Homo sapiens: one gene and its partners. The main gene of each other region encodes a partner of the protein of the gene in region 2 in a complex. Each region holds a gene or a part of one and is shown on either strand. Other genes may lie near its edges.

Region 1 (7,040 bases), on a different chromosome or scaffold from region 2:
ACAGTATAAAAGATACCACAGAAGAGGCCACAGACACATATATGCTCCAGGATGCACTAACTTCCTTTTTCTGTGGGTAATCTGGGTAGTACTTGTGATGCTGGTAAAGATGATGATGATGATACCAGAAACTAACATTTATTGCACACTTAATAAATGTGTGCTAGACACTGTGCAATATATTTATATCCTTATAACAACAAGGTGTTGGCAATAACATCATTCCCTATTTTACAGATAAAGAAAGTGAGACCCAAAGATATAAAATCATTTGCCCAAGATCAGCTAGTATGGGGGCAGAACTAGAATTCAAACTAAAGAAGCTTTTAATCATCTACACTGTATGCTATATGGAGATCTATTTTCTAAAAGCTCCCATGTGAATATGATATATAGCTGGGTTTCAGAACTACTGCCAATTGTAGTTCTAAAAGTGCAAGTAAAACTATCTTTTTACATAATGTCTACTATTGGATGTTTAAAAATTTTTATTTGCTTTTGAGACAGGGTCTCATTCCGTAGCCCAGGCTGGAATGCAGTGACACGATCTCAGCTCACTCAACCTCCACCTCCTAGGCTCAAGCAATCCTCCCACCTCAGCCTCCCAAGTGGCCAGGACCACACGCATGCACCACCAAGCTCGGCTAATATTTATTTATTTATTTTATTTTTTATTTTTTCAGATGGAATTTTGCTGTTGTTGCCCAGACTGGAGAACAATGGCACGATCTCAGCTCACTGCAACCTCTGCCTCCCGGATTCAAGCAATTCTCCTGCCTCAGCCTCCCAAGTAGCTGGGATTACAGGCGTGCGCCAGCCACCACACCCAGCTAATTTTGTATTTTTAGTAGAGATGGGTTTCACCATGTTGGCCAGGCTGGTCTTGAACTCCTGACCTCAAGTGATCCACCAGCCACGGCCTCCCAAAGTGCTGGGATTACAGGCGTAAGCCAACATGCCCGGCCACTTTTTTTTTTTTTTTAATAGGGATATAAATCTTTTTCTTCACTAGACCCTGCTTCTAGGTGGAAGGGTCAGACTCCAGCAGGCCAGACACGGGAGCACCAAGGTAGGAAGGAGGAGGATACCTCATAGCCACCAGTCAACAGAATGTATTTAATAGTGACAGTACTGAAACCAGATTCTAACACATCCTAGAATAAATCACTGGAAGTATCCCCATTGGATTTTTGTTAAAAGACAAGAAAAAGCATCTAAAGAGAAGCAACCTATTATTAATGGGACATTAATCAAAGCACTAACTTGATCTTTTAGTAGCATTATCCCACCACTGGACTGGATAGTACAAATCTCTCGATGTTTGTTCATGGCAATCACCAGCAAGCCATCCATCACACGTTCTTCTCGTTCATTGGGATCCACCAATAAATATGTTCTGAAATGAATGTTAAATGGACCTGAACAAATCTGAGACCGAATGCTTACCATTTCTTGGGTAATGAATTTTTAAAAGATGGCATCAATAAAGTCAACAGAGAATAAAGGTCTGAGCCTACGGATTTGGGTCACTGAAATGGGGAAAGAGACAAGAAAATTATTGTGTTTATGAACACAAATGAATGCTAAGTGGGTATCTCTAGTTATTACAATGAAATCACATTAAGTTCAGATTGGATTTACTTAAATGATATATAATCTAAACCTAATGCTATCTCTTTGATTAAATGACTTCTGGCTCATTAATAAAAACTTAGATAATGTTAAATTGGTTAACCCTAAAGTTGCCCTAATGTCCTGTACTCCAAAGTTCTACTGCGTTCTGCTAATGGCTCATGAAAAAAATACTGTCTATTTCTGCACTGTCCGGTACATTTGCCAATAGTCACCTGTGGTTACTGAGCCCTTGAAATGTAATCAGAGTATGTAAAATATTGGATTTCAGAGACTTAGTGGAAACAAAAGAATGTAGACTATCTCATGAGTAATTATTAAAATACTGATTATTTCATTAATCATTTTATTTCATTAACGTGAAAATATATTAATTAAAAATATATAAAAATTAATTTTACCTTTTTAATGTGACTACTGGAAAATATTAAATTACACATATGAGGCCAGGCATGGTGGCTCATGCTTGTAATCCCAGCACTTTGGGAGGTCAGGACTGCAAGATCACTTGAGCTCATGAGTTTGGGACCAGCCTGGGCAACAAAGTGAGACCCTGTCTCTACAAAAAAAATTTTTTTAAATTAGCTGGGTATGCCACACACCTATAGTCCCAGCTACTTGGAAGGCTGAGGTGGGAGGATCACTTGAGCTCAGAAGTAGGCTGCAGTGAGCTATGATCACACCACTGCACTCCAGCCTGGGTGAGAGTGAGACCCTGTCACAAAAAAATAAAAAAAAAATTTAAAAAGTAACAAATGCTGCGCATGGTGGCTCAAGCCTATAATCCTAGCACTTTGGGAGGTGGAGATAGGCGGATCACTTGAGCCCAGGAGCTTCAGACCATCCTGGGCAACGTAGTGAAATCCCATCTCTACAAAAAATAAAGAAATTAGCTGGGCATGGTGTGCACCTGTGGTCCCAGCTACTCAGGAGGCTGAGGCAGGAGAATCACTTGAGCCTGAGAGGTTGAGGCTGCAATAAAACATGATCACGCCACTGCACTCAAGCCTGGGTGACAGAGGGAGACCTTGTCTTAAAAAAAAAAAAGAAAAGAAAAGAAAAAGAAACAGCCAGGCATGGTGGCTCATCCCCGTAATCCAGCATTTTGGGAGGCTGAGGTAGCTAGATCACTTTTGAACTCAGGAGTTCCAGACCAGCCTGGGCAATATGGCAAAACCTCTTTTTTACAAAAAAAATACAAAAATTAGCTAGGCATGGTGGTGCATGCCTGTAGTCTCAACTACTCGGAAGGCTGAGGCTGAAGAATTCATTGAGCCCAGAAAGCAGAGGTTGTAATGAGCAAAAATCACGCTGCTGAAATCCAAATTGGGCAACAAAGCCAGACCTCATCTCAAAAAAAAGAAGAAAATAAGAAAATTATATATATGGTTCACATTTTATTTCTACTGGACAATGCTGGCCCATTTTCCTCTGATAAAACTCTACACTTACAATCACTAAAACTTGTAAGTGTTTCTCTAGTCCTTGTGCACAACACTGTGTGAAATATTTTTATCTTCCCTTGTTTCTAAAGGAATTTAAGGCTCAAGTTTTCATTTGAAAGCACCATTAAATGGACCTGAAAAACTCCAAGTTTTCTGCCACAGGAGGATTTAGCAGTTAAGTAATGAAAACGCTGGAAAACTTAAGAACATTAGATTTTTTTCCTCCAGTCTGTGAACCATCCCCCCTTGTAACCGACTCCTAGAACTACTCCATCTAATATGTTCCAAAGTCCCCTATCTTCCAATAACCCACAGTAATTCTCACCCCACTGTCCCAAATTAGAGCCTAGCATATAATTCTCTTAACCACTGTACAGCCTTAGGAAACATAAAACACTACCATGCCATAGTAAATTCCTAAGTTTATAAGTATCCCATGAAAAGAAAAATGTTGGGAAGTATCTTCATCAAAGTATAAGAGTTTTGTTACTTCTACTGAGAAAGTTCTTTGCCAACTAATGCCCTTACAAAGAAAGAAAGGAAATACAAGGTGCTTTACTATTAAGGGAAGTGTTTGTTTAATATTAACATGACATACTTGAGTAGAGCAATAAAATTCCTAGCTGCATTTGTAATTTTGGCCCATAATAAGGCGAGGCTTACCCTTGCTGGAAAAAGGCAAAACTGACACAAATGGGCATGTGGTGGATACTTAATGGTACAGGATCACGCTCTTCAGGTGTATACTGTTTCAAAAGAAAATGTTTAATAATTATAGTCACTAAGTTATGAACATCCAAAAAAATCATCTTGCACATCAAATACTAAAAAATGAAGTTCCTTTATTCTTTTGAGTACCTAAATAACTTCTTTTAATTAATTACCAGTTTGATTTTGCCACTCACGTTCCTCAAACTGTACAACTTTTTCAAAAAGCTTTTTCAAAAATTTACTGACACATAATTTACATCCCATAAAATCCACTTTTTTTTTTGGAGATGAAGTTTCACTCTTGTTGCCCAGGCTGGAGTGCAATGGCAAGATGTCAGCTCCCGGCAACCTCCGCCTCCTGGGCTCATGCGATTCTCCTATGTCAGCCTCCCAAGTAGGTGGGATTACAGGCATGTGCCACCACGCCCGGCTAATTTTGTATTTTTAGTAGACGGGGTTTCTCCATGTTGGTCAGGCTGGTCTCGAACTCCCAACCTGAGGTGATCCACCTGCCTTGGCCTCCCAAAGTGCTGGAATTACAGGTGTGAGCCACCACGCCCAGCCAAAATCCACTCATTTTAAGTATATGATTCAATTTTTAGTAAATGTATAGTTATGGATACATTTACGGACCCATCACCACAATCTAGTTTTTTAACATTTCCATTACTCCCCAAAATTCCTTTGAATCTGTCTGTAGTCCGTAGGAGTCTGGTGTACTCCCACCCTAGCCCCAAGGAATCACTGATCTATCTTATTTCTGTCTCTATAAATCTGACTTTCTGAGCATTCTATATAAATGGAAAAAAAAAAAGTTGTAATGTTTTGTGCCTGGCTTCTTTCAACTTAGCATGTTTCATGCACCTTGCAGCATTTATCAGTAGTTCAGTTCTTTTCATTACTGAACAGCATTCCATTATTTGTATATATGACATTTTATCTATTCACCAGCTGGACATTTGGATTGTTTCCAGTTTCTGGCTAACAAATGATGCTATGAACACTTGCATTGAAGTCTCTGAACGTAGTAAGCTCTTATTCCTCCCGTAGATTCTTAGGCATGGAATTGCTAGAATTTTTTTTTTTTTTTCTAATTTTAAGCCATTGCAGTTTGTTTTAACATTATAAGGTCGGCTGGGGGCAGTGGCTCACGTCTGTAATCCCAGCACTTTGGAAGGCCGATGTGGACGAGGTTGGGAGTTCAAGACCAGCCTGACCAACATGGAGAAACCCTGTCTCTACTAAAAATACAAAATTAGCCAGGCGTGGTTGCACATGCCTGCAATCCCAGCTACTTGGGAGGCTGAGGCAGGAGAATCGCTTGAATCCGGGAGGCGGAGGCTGCAGTGAGCCGAGATCACGCCATTGTACTCTAGCCTAGGCAACAACAGTGAAACTTTGTCTCAAAAGAAAAAAAAAAAATTACAAGGTCAAACCTGCTGAAAGATGTACATATAAGAGAGTGTTTTCAGCTGGGCATGGTGGCTCATGCCTGTAATCCCAACAGTTTGGGAGGCCAAGGTGGGAGGATCACTTGAGCCCAGGAGTTCGAGACCAGCCTGGGCAATTTGGTGAAACCATATCTCTACAAAAAATACAAAAATTAGTCAAGTGGGTGGCACATACCTGTAGTCCCCACTACTCAGGAGACTGAGGTGGGAGGATTGCTTAAGTCCAGGAGGCAGAGGTTACAGTGAGCCGAGATCACGCCACTGCACCCCAGCCTGGACAACGGAGTGAGATCCTGTCTCAAAAAAAAAAAAAAGAAAAAAAAAAAAGAATATTTTCTTCTACTGTTATTTTTCTGAATATAGAATGCTGTCTACACTTAAAACTTAAGCTACCAAACTTTTCCAACATGGCTGTACCATTTTACATTCCCACTAGCAATAACACCACAGTATTCTTTAATTGATTTTTCAAGTGTAGTAATCGCTTTCTACTTTTTTTCACTTCCTTATATAAACTCCCTCCTCTAAAAGAATATTACCTCTACTGTTAATAAACCTTTGTCCCTATTTCTCACTTTTTAATGGTTCTGCTTCAGTCTACTGCCCAAAATCAAAATTATGAATCATTGCTTAGAAAATCTGGGCATCTGATGTGTCCTTTTGCAACTTCAGGATTCAAACTACAACTACAGTGCACTTTCACTATTCTAGCATGTAATTTATATAAATCAAAACTGACATACTCAGAACAAAAGATAAAGACAACGTAGGTCAATGGTTTTCAAAATGTGCTCCCTGGACCAGCAACATCAGTATTACCTAAGAACTCAAAGTTAGAAGTACAAAATCTTAAGTCCTAGCCCTGTTTTACTTTGGGAGTAGTCTGGCTATACGTTTTAACAAGCCCTCCAGGTATTTCTGATGGACTTTCGTCATCTCTTTGCCTAATGAACAAAAGTCCTGGAGACAAATATGAACCTGCTGATTCCTCAGTGCTTTTCAGCTATTGCATGCCTCTTGCAGGGTAAGCATCTCACTGTGCTGAGATTCATGTATTTTTCACACATATGGCCCCTAAACATAAGTCAACCACTTCATCTAATGTTCAATCCAAAATAGTCATCTAATTCTATTCTGGAAAACCAGGCTAGGGTATGTTCTTACTGACAAATGTTTCAACAGAGGAACGGTTAAGAGATTTCCAGGGCAATTTTGACCATATGCAGTTTCAGTCTTACAAACAAATTTTTAGAAACGACCCAATTGCCATCTACAACATAACTTCACTAAAAACAAGTTGCCTGCACATTTAAGACCCTCCTCATTCATTCATATCAAGGATCCTGGTTCACATAGGAGCTTACCAGTGTTACTTCATCTCCTTGGACAGAGACATCAGGTCTTCGGAAATGACATAAGGCCACGATTGCAGCAATGCTGGCAGCATCAATAATATTTCCATCATGATTTAATAAATGTAGGTCTACACGTATTTGCCAAACCTGATAGTGAATTTAAAATAAAAATAAATCCTAACTGATTACAACCAGTGGCTATTTATCAGGAAAAGTAACATTGTGTACAAATTATTTTTTCTTGCTGTTAAAACACGCAGTTACTCCTTGTACTTTGTCAACAAAAAATATATTTTAGAAAATTTAAGCCAAACATCTGAAATACTATGTGGGTCGTTTAACAACAGAACACATACTTTAAATAAACAGAACCACTCTAACATTTAATACTACGATTTTCCTAACCTCAAATCTAATTACATTTTTATCATGTCTGTTAAAAACCA
Region 2 (2,891 bases):
GCTGTGGACGAGCCAATGGAATGGGTGTCATTGGACAGGATGGTCTGCTTTTTAAAGTGACTCTGGGCTTAATTAGAAAGTAAGTCCTGATGTCTGCTGGCTTGACTGCTTTTTATAATTATACATTCTTGGAAAGTTGGTTAATCTTCAGGATTCAGATTCTTTGTAACGTTTGAATTTCTCCTCAGAGTTAGAAATCAGTATCCATTTTAACACATTTGGAAACTCATGAATTTAATCCTATCTTCTTGGAAACATATCAAATTCAGATGTGTTTGGCTGTGTAGTTTCTGGTGGGCTGATACTTCATGCCTTAAGCTCTTACTCTGTATTCATATCTTCCTTCCCAGGCCTGTTGCTTATTTGACTTAGCCCAAATGTGAAAACTGGCCTTTCCCCTGTTCTGAGTCACTTGAATACAGATGCAGTCTGCAGTTGTATAAAATTATCAATTTTTTCTAATTATGGGGGTCACACGCAGCTTAGATTGTGATGTTCAAGGTTATGTAGACATTCACAGAAGGCTTCTGACACTTGGTCATACTGAGGCATACTGAGGTTCATGCTGAGGCAGATTCTCTTTTTGGTGTTTAGAACTTTACCCACCCAAAGCTGTGCCATATTCAGGGGCTTTACTCCTAGAGCCAGTGAAGTTGAGAGCTATCTTGTATGCCTCTCCTTACTACATATCCTAAAGATCTGGAGAATTAAGTTTGGACATCAGAGAAGCATGTTTTTAACCAAGAAGCATGTTATTAACCAAGCACCACCCTTATGGTTTGAAAGAGCCAATGTTCCTCTCCAAGTACTGAATTTAACACAAGAGAATAATATGGCCAGGAAAATAAGTTTAAAGTGTCTTAACACTGTAGATAAAAAAAGTTATGATTCCCAGTCTAGAATTAAAGTGCTCTGACCATCTAGGGGAATGACTTTTACAAAGTTGGTAACCTAGGGAGTTTGATTTCTTTGTAAGGCATAGCCCACCTCTGTGATTTCTAGTATACCTTTGAACAGTGTAAAGTTCCTTCTTGGAAGAAAGGAGGCAGCAAATGTCATCACGTGCCTTGTTCTTGTTGAACAGCTATGGAGAACTGCTCAGAAAAGGAATCACATTCTAAAGGAGACTCCGGACACACCTTTGCCACTTCATTAAATTTCATTTTCTTTTCTCTTCCCACCAGGCTATTAGCTCCAGATTGTGAAATCATACAGGAAGTGGGAAAACTCTATCCACTGGAGATAGTATTTGGAATGAATGGAAGAATATGGGTTAAGGCAAAAACCATCCAGCAGACTTTAATTTTGGCAAACATTTTAGAAGCTTGTGAACACATGACGTCAGATCAAAGAAAACAGATCTTCTCCAGATTGGCAGAAAGTTGATATAGGTGGACTTTTTTACAGGTCAGTTGAGGCAAAAAACTATGGGTTTTTTCAGGTGAACCTCCCCCATTTAAATACTCAGAAGATAAGGTGTGAATGTATGTATTATTAGAGTCCGAAAGTATTTTTATAAGTTACTGGTTTTCACCCACGCTTTTGTGGGAGAGAAAATCATTGCAAAATCATTTTTTTTGTTCGGTACAATAAAGTTTACTAAAAAACAGTATTAGGGTTTATTTGGAGTTAACTCCCTTAGTAATTGCTACAGCTTCCATAATTAACTGGAGGTCAGCAGTAAAATAATTTTGTGATTATAACAGTAAGCCAGGTTCACCAGAGGAAATGTGGAATACCTAAGTATAAAGCAGCAAAGAAATGTCACCTGTAGTCCCATTATTCAGCGGGTGAGTATATAACAACGAAATACTTTTTCATTTACCAAGTATTGTGTTTTGCATGGATTAACTCCTTTATTCTAACTGCAGAAGACACTTATCCTCATAATTGAAACTGAGGCACAGAATTTAACTTGGCCTACATTCTCTATATTCATCAAATTGAAATTATAGTTATTATAGCTTATATGCCACTTTGTAATATACTTTTGTCTACTTCAAACAGCATGATACATTTCACAACTTTAGTCACATATTTCATGTTACAGGATATTTTTGAGTTTTATCATTATATAAATAACACTATGAGGATTTCTGAATCCAAATCTGGCCAAGTCTTATTTTGCTAAAATCATTTCCTAGGAGCTAAGCATAGAAAACTCTTCTATGCTATTTAGTATATTAACCAAAACCTTTAGAGGTAAAGAGACTGCCAGGTGATCCACATCAGTGATTCTTGGTTTCTAGACCTCTGAGAATATGTGAGATACAGATCCCCTGAAGCCTATCCATAGAAAGTCCTTTTTGGATCAAAGAGATTATAGAACTCTATTTGTTGATAAAGACCAAGGAGCTTCGTGTGTTTCTAATGTTTTCTAAGGACTGGATGGTTTTTAGTTCAATAGCTTTTAGGGGTACAAGTGGTTTTGGATTACACGGATGAATTGTATAGTGGTGAAGTCTGAGATTTTGGTGTACCAGTCACCTGAGTACTATATATTGTACCCAGTATGTAGTTTATCCTTCCCCCTTCCCTGTTCCGGGTCTCCAGTATCTGTTATACCACTCTGTGTGCTTACCTGTAGCTTAGCTCCCACTTAAAGTGGGAACATTTGGTATTTGGTTTTCCATTCCTGAGTTACTTCACTAAGAATAATAGCTTCCAATACTATCCAAGTTGCTGCAAAAGACATTTTTTATGGCTAATATTCCATGGGATATATATACCACACTTTATCCATTCATTGGTTGATGGGTACTTAGGTTGGTCCCATATCTTTTATTATGAACTGTCTAGCCAGTTTTTAAATAGAAAAGTACTGATTAGGTGAACAGTTCCTTAGGAATTAAATTGTGAAGGGGAGGGGACACAGCAGAGAAGTAATCTGT
Region 3 (7,040 bases), on a different chromosome or scaffold from region 2:
ATTGTCCAGGCTGGAGTGCAATGGTGTGATCTCGGCTCACTGCAACCTCCGCCTCCCCGGTTCCAGCAATTCTCCTGCGTCGGCCTCCCAAGTAGCTGAGATTACAGGCACCCACCACTATGCCCAGCTAATTTTTGTATCTTTAGTAGAGATAGGGTTTCACCATGTTGACTAGGATGGTCTCAAACTCCTGACCTCAGGTGATCCACCCACCTCAGCCTCCCAAAGTGCTGGGATTACAGCAGACAGTACTAGAAGCCAGGCTGTTTATTTCTTAGGTTTTACCTCCTGTACCCCGTTCATAGCTTCTGGGGAAATAAGGAATCAGGATTCATTCCAGATATTATCCCTTTCTCAGGTGTCCAGACTGATGCAAAATTTGGGGGCCAGTGCCTAAGGGAAGAGCTGGGCTGGGGAAGCTTTGGAAAGAGAAGTTGAGAGCAGCTGCAGTAAGAGGGAGGATGGTTAGCTTTCAGGAAGAACTTCCTGTTAAAAGTTACTAATACCAGCCGGGCACAGTGGCTCACGCCTGTAATCCCAGCGCTTTGGGAGGCGGGCAGATCATGAGGTCAGGAAGTTCGAGACCAGCCTGACCAACATGGTGAAACCCAGTCTCTACTAAAAATAAAAAAATTAGCCAGGTGTGGTGGCGCGCGCCTGTAATCCCAGCTACTCAGTAGGCTGAGGCAGGAGAACTGCTTGAACCCGGGAGGCAGAGGTTGCGGTGAGCCGAGATTACGCCACTGCACTCCAGCCTGGGCGACAGAGCAAGACTCCATCTCATTAAAAAAAAAAAAATTACTAATATCAGGGCCAGGCGTGGTAGCTCACGCCTGTAATCCTAGCACCTTGGGATTACAGTTGCCCAGGAGTTCGAAACCCGCCTGAGCAACATGGCAAAATCCCCTCTCTACTAAAAATATAAAAATTAGTCAGGCATGGTGGCACATGCCTGTAGTTCCAGCTACTTGGGAGGCTGAGGCGGGAGGATCACTTGAGCCCAGAAGGTCAAGGCTGCAATGAGCCGTGATGGCACCACTGCACTCCAGCCTGGGCAATGAGAGTGAGACCCTGCCTGAATGCCTGAATGGACGAATGTTACTAATACAGCTAAAGTCTGTTGCACATTCAGCGTGAGCCCCGCAGTGTTCTAAGTGTTTTCTGTGAATTGTGTCCTTTGATCCTCACAAGACGCTAGCGGGGAGGGACTGCTATTTTCCCCATTTTACAAATGAGAGAAATGAAGTGAGTGCTCAAAGAATCAGTACCAACAAATGGCGGGGGTGACGTGGGGAGCCCTGGCCGTCAGGCTCAGTGCCACAAATGGGGCCCCAGGAGCAGGGAAGCTGTGAGTGAGGCCCTCCCTGCTGTCTCCTCAGGTGACACCTCTGTCCTGGCGGGTGTGTACGGGCCGGCCGAGGTGAAGGTCAGCAAAGAGATTTTCAACAAGGCCACACTCGAAGTGATCCTGAGGCCGAAGATTGGGCTGCCTGGTAATTGGGCCCTGCTGAACCTCTGAGTGGTGCCCAGTTTGTCAAAATCACCCCCCCAGCTCCTCCCTACCAGCTGCCCCGAGTCTCCACTCCCCGCTTGGGTCTCCACTCAGCTGTTTCTGTCTTTAACTCTCCGCCTCTAATTAATAACTCATCTTCTGTTGCTTCTCTCTCTGCCTCTAATTTCTCCCTCCCTCTTTTCTCCCTCTCTCTGCCTCCACTCTCATTCATTCCATTAACCTGTTTTTCTTTTATTTATTTTTATTTATTTATTTTTTTTTTGGAGACAGTGTCTCGCTCTGTCACCCCGGCTGGAGTGCAGTGGCACGATCTCAGCTCACTGCAACCTCTGCCTCCCAGATTCAAGCAATTCCCCTGGCTCAGCCTCCCGAGTCGCTGGGATTACAGGCACGTGCCACCATGCCCACTAATTTTTTGTATTTTTTTAGTAGAGATGGGGTTTCACCATGTTGGCCAGGATGGTCTTGATCTCCTGACCTCAAGTGATCCGCCCGCCTCAGCCCCCCAAAGTGTTGGGATTACAGGCGCGAGCCACTGTGCCTGGACCATTAACCTGTTTTTCCACCCTTTTACCCTCATATCCCTCAGTCCCCACTGACTGGACCTGCTAGGGTGGGAGTGGGCGTGGGTAGCAGCACAGACATGGAACTCCCAGGTCTTCTTCCCTTGGATGGTTCCCTTGGTGGATGCTGGAGGTAGCAGGGGTCAGTGGATGGCAGTCAGGCCTTGCCTTCTTCCCACTGGAATCTTCCATCATCCCTGCAGGTAACTGCACCATCCCAGGCTGAGACCGTGAGCCCTTTCTGGGAATTTGGGTGAGGCGTATGGAGGAAGGTGAGTCAAATGAAGGGGAAGACCCTGAACCTCTCTTCAATTTCCCCAGGTGTTGCAGAGAAGAGCCGGGAGCGGCTGATCAGGAACACGTGCGAGGCGGTGGTGCTGGGCACGTTGCACCCCCGCACCTCCATCACCGTGGTGCTGCAGGTTGTCAGCGATGCCGGCTCTGTATCCTTTCTGCCAGGCCTCCTCCTCCAGGAAGTCTCCTGATTGCTTCCCTCCTGGCGGATACATATACCCTCACTGCTAGCCAGAAAGCCTTCAAACACTTGACAGGTACCAGCTCACTGAAGAAGGAGAGCAAACAGCCTGGGTGCTTACTTATGTGCCAGGCACTGTTCTGTGTGCCTTATGCACATTAACTCATGTAATATAGCACATGCCCTTATGATCCCCGTGGAAGTGGCAGAGCCAAGACTTAGACCCAGACCGTCTAGTTCTAGAGCCCACGGACCCTGGCAGATGAGTGTTCTTATGTTCGCATGTTTCAGGTGACAAAACTGAGGCCCAGAGAGGGGAAGGGGCTTGCCCAAGGTCACACAGCTGGAAGGCAGCACAGGCAGGACTCAAGCCCAGGCCAGTCTGACTCCAGAGCCTGTGCCAATCACTTCTTTTGTTTTTTGGGTTTTTTTGTTTGTTTTTGAGACAGGCTCTCACTCTGTCACCCAGGCTGGATGCAGTGGTGCAATGTCAGCTTACTGCAACCTCTACCTCCCGGGCTCAAGCGATTCCCATGCTTTAGCCTCCTGAATTACAGGTGGAATTACAGGTGCCTGCCACCACGCCAGGCTAATTTTTGTATTTTTAGTAGAGACGGGGTTTTGCTGTGTTGGCCAGGCTGGTCTCGAACTCCTGACCTCGAGTGATCAGTCCACCTTGGCCTCCCAAAGTGCTGGGGTTACAGGCATGAGCTACTGTGCCCGGCTGGCAATCACTTCTACTCGGCACCTCAGTGGATTTCAGGCCCTCAGTGCTGGGGGCGCCCTGAGCAGACAGCAGCTGAGTCAGGAGCGTGGCCTTGTAAGATCTCCATGTCTGAGGTGCGAGAGGTTGAGGTTGAGGACTAGAATTAGACACTGTAGAAGGCTTTACTGGAACGTGGCCCTGAACTGGACAGACATTTTATGGATGGGCAGAGAGAGAAGGTATTGTGACCCCATTTTACAGAAGTGGAAAGTGAAGCCCAGAGGAAGGCGTGGAGGATCAGCAGCAGAGCTGGAACCGGTTGACTAAAGCTGTGGTCTTTGTCTGGCTGCTAGGCCTGGAGAAGAAACACATTAGGAAACTGAGGCAGAGCCAGCTGACTCCCAACCTGTGCTCTCTTTCCACTGTGAGCTTCCTGCAGGCAGCAGCGAGGTGGCTCTTCCTCCATTGCCCTGCCAGCTCTGTCACCGGGGAGTGGCTGCTACCCAAGTTTCGGGCCTGGCTTTGCCAGTGCCTCCCCCTCGTGTCTTTGGAAGGTTTCTTCCCCTCTCTGACCCTATTTGCCAACAAATGTGTGGTACGTACTTCAGTACATACCTATTGAATATTATTATATTCCCCATCTAACAGATGAGGAGATTGAGACTCAAGGAGTAAGTCACTTGTTCAAGGTCACACAGCTGAGCAAAACTAGGTCTGGAACCCAGGGCTACTTGATCCCCGGACCACTTTTAACCACTCTGCCATACTGCCCTTCTGTGACCGATTAGTGATGTCTGCCATAGGCATCAGCCTGGTGGAGGGAGGCATGGATCTGCTCTGCTGGCCAGGCCTACAGTAGAAACTTCTTAGGCTGGGCGTGGTGGCTCATGCCTGTAATCCCAGCACTTTGGGAGGCCGAGGCAGGTGGATCACCTGAGGTCAGGAGTTTTCAGACCAGCCTGGCCAACATAGTGAAACCCCATCTCTACTAAAAATACAAAGATTAGCCGGGTGTGGTGGTGGGTGCCTGTAATCCCAGCTACTCAGGAGGCTGAGGCAGGAGAATTGCTTGAACCCAGGAGGTGGAGGTTGCAGTGAGCCGAGATCACACCATTGCACTCCAGCCTGGGCAACAAGAGCGAAACTCCATCTCCAAAAAAAAAAAAAAGAAACTTAACCATTTCCTGTGGTGCTCAGCTCCTGGCCTGTTGTCTGAATGCCGCCTGCATGGCATTGGTGGATGCAGGTGTGCCCATGCGGGCTCTCTTCTGTGGGGTCGCCTGCGCCCTGGACTCTGATGGGACCCTCGTGCTGGATCCTACATCCAAGCAAGAAAAGGTAGGTGTGAAGACCAGGGTGGCTGAAGGGCAGAGGCCAGACAGCTGCCCGTCCCTTCCTCCAGGCCTCGCTTCTCTACAGACAGTCGGCTCATGCCACCTCAATCCCACTTAGCAAGGGCTGCTCTAATCATCATGGTTCATTTAGCAGCAAGTGCTGGAAACCCAGCTCAGACTTGCTTAATTAGGAAGGAAATGTGGGGCCGGGAGCGGTGGCTCACGCCTGTAATCCCAGCACTTTGGGAGGCTGAGGTGGGTGGATCACCTGAGGTCGGGAGTTCGAGATCAGTCTGACCAACATGGAGAAACCCCATCTCTACTAAAAATACAAAATTAGCCAGGTGTGGTGGCGCACGCCTGTAATCCCAGCTACTCAGGAGGCTGAGGCAGGAGAATCGCTTGAACCCAGGACGCGGAGGTTGTGGTGAGCCGAGATCGCGCCATTGCACTCCAGCCTGGGCAATAAGAGTGAAACTCCATCTCAAAAAATATAAATAAATAAACTAGAAAGGAAATGTATGGCCAGGTGTGGTGGCTCACACCTGTAATGCCAGCACTTTGGGAGTCTGAGGCAGGCAGATCACCTGAGGCTGGGAGTTGAAGACCAGCCTGGCCAACATTGCAAAACCCTGTCTCTACTAAAAATACAAAGGTTAGCTAGGCATGGTGGCACACATCTGTAATCTCAGCTACTCAGGAGGCTGAGGCAGGAGAATCACTTAAACCTGGAGGGTGGAGGTTACAGTGAGCTGAGATCGCACCACTTCACTCCAGCCTGGATGAAAGAGTGAAACTCTCAAAAATAAAATAAAATAAAACCAGGACTTTAAACACCATCAGGATGTCCTTGCTTCACTTCTCGTCCCTGCCTTTCTCTGCACATCAGCTTCATTCTTTCTGGCCAGCACCTTTCCTGAGGCTGGGACTGACCCCTTAAGCTCCATTTCCATCCTAGGAGGCTCAAAAGCAAACGAGAAGAGAGTTTTCCTCATCGGCTCAGGTGCAGTGTCCTAAGCTCAAGTTATTCTGAGTTTTCTGCCCAGTGCTATAATGGTCCCCTCTAGTCAAGAAGACGGAAACCACTTGGAGGGTTTCAGATGGAGGGAGTTAAATGCAGGGACTTTGTAACAACAGTGTTGAGGAACTAGAGGAGGAAAAAGGAAGCAGGAGTGACACCCAGAGATGAGAAACCCCTCCCAGACCTGGACTGAACCTGCGAGCCACCTCCTGTTCTGTCGTGTTGGAGACATCATCTCAATTGGTTCTGGATGCACATAGCATGTCCTGCTTCTGCCCTGGCCACTGAGGTCCAGAACCCACCCCACCTCCATGGCTGTCACACAGCCACAGCCATCAGCACCTGCCATTGTCCATGAGGACCAGGGTGCTGCTTTTCTTCCATTCTCCCACCTCATTACTGATGGAAACTAGCTGGTAAGGGAGTCTGGGAAATACAGCTTGCTGGCTTCCAGCCCCTGTGGGACAGAGCATGGAAGGGGGACTGGGAGGCCGAGAGGTACCAGATAAGTGAGTGGCACTATGGCTAGCCCCTTGGGGCAGGAATACTGAGCTTGGAAGCCCCTGTCAGAACCACGTGGTTGGAATAAGGGGCATGGAGTACAGTTCTACAAAGGAAAGGCAGAGGGCTATACCCAGGGAAGTAGGGAAGGGGTAGCGTAGACAAAAAATGGCTGCGCTTGATGCTTGATAGGTGAGCGCCTGGCTATGGAAAGGGAGAGGCCTGGAGGCCAAGGGTCCGGAGTCCCCTCAGTGGGACTGGCTGCAAGTGTGTGGTGGGAAGGGGAGCGTTGAGACAGGGTCTCACTGTCGCCCATGCTGGAGTGTAGTACGATCACAGCTCACTGCAGCTTCAAACTCCTGGGCTCAAGCAGTCCTCCCACCTCTGCCTCCTGAGTAGCTGGGAACTCAGACATGCACCCCCACACCCAGCTACCTTTTTTTTTTTTTTTTTTCTGAGATGGGGTCTCCCTCTGTTGCCCAGATTGGTCTTGAGTTTCTGGCCTCAAGCAGTGCCCTGCCTTGGCCTCCCAAAGTGGTGAGATTATGGTCATGAGCCACTGTGCCTGGCCAAAGGACTGGCTGAGATTTTATCTGAGGGGAAGGTCCTAGGTCCCCCACCGCCTTCTACCCCTTGTCCCTAGGAGGCCCGGGCAGTCCTGACCTTTGCCCTGGACAGCGTGGAACGGAAGCTGCTGATGTCCAGCACCAAGGGGCTCTACTCAGACACTGAGGTACCAGCATGGGGATGAGGGGAAAAGCCAGAACCTTCCTTCCCACTGACATACGGTCTTGTCCCAACTCTGCCCTGGATTCTGAGAGGCTTCAGGAGAGCCTCTTAAATTTCTTCTTGTAAAAAGGGAGTTTTCAAACTTTGTGGACCCAGAAACCTTTGCGGAAATGTTTAAGGGAAGCCCAATTTATAACA

Evidence for each region.
Region 1: EXOSC3 (region 2) and EXOSC9 share a complex: the UniProt entries of both Homo sapiens proteins name them as parts of the RNA exosome core complex.
Region 3: EXOSC3 (region 2) and EXOSC5 share a complex: the UniProt entries of both Homo sapiens proteins name them as parts of the RNA exosome core complex.

Annotation. Positions count from the first base shown.
Region 1 is NC_000004.12:121,804,323-121,811,362, reverse strand, and holds part of EXOSC9 (exosome complex component RRP45), read right to left. Parts: intron 6,742-7,040; coding exon 6,604-6,741; intron 3,824-6,603; coding exon 3,741-3,823; intron 1,397-3,740; coding exon 1,264-1,396; intron 1-1,263. UniProt on the Homo sapiens protein: Non-catalytic component of the RNA exosome complex which has 3'->5' exoribonuclease activity and participates in a multitude of cellular RNA processing and degradation events.
Region 2 is NC_000009.12:37,779,174-37,782,064, reverse strand, and holds the end of EXOSC3 (exosome complex component RRP40), read left to right. Parts: coding exon 1-79; intron 80-1,184; coding exon 1,185-1,386; 3' UTR 1,387-2,351; downstream 2,352-2,891. UniProt on the Homo sapiens protein: Non-catalytic component of the RNA exosome complex which has 3'->5' exoribonuclease activity and participates in a multitude of cellular RNA processing and degradation events.
Region 3 is NC_000019.10:41,387,320-41,394,359, reverse strand, and holds part of EXOSC5 (exosome complex component RRP46), read left to right. Parts: intron 1-1,379; coding exon 1,380-1,493; intron 1,494-2,397; coding exon 2,398-2,519; intron 2,520-4,454; coding exon 4,455-4,595; intron 4,596-6,756; coding exon 6,757-6,846; intron 6,847-7,040. UniProt on the Homo sapiens protein: Non-catalytic component of the RNA exosome complex which has 3'->5' exoribonuclease activity and participates in a multitude of cellular RNA processing and degradation events.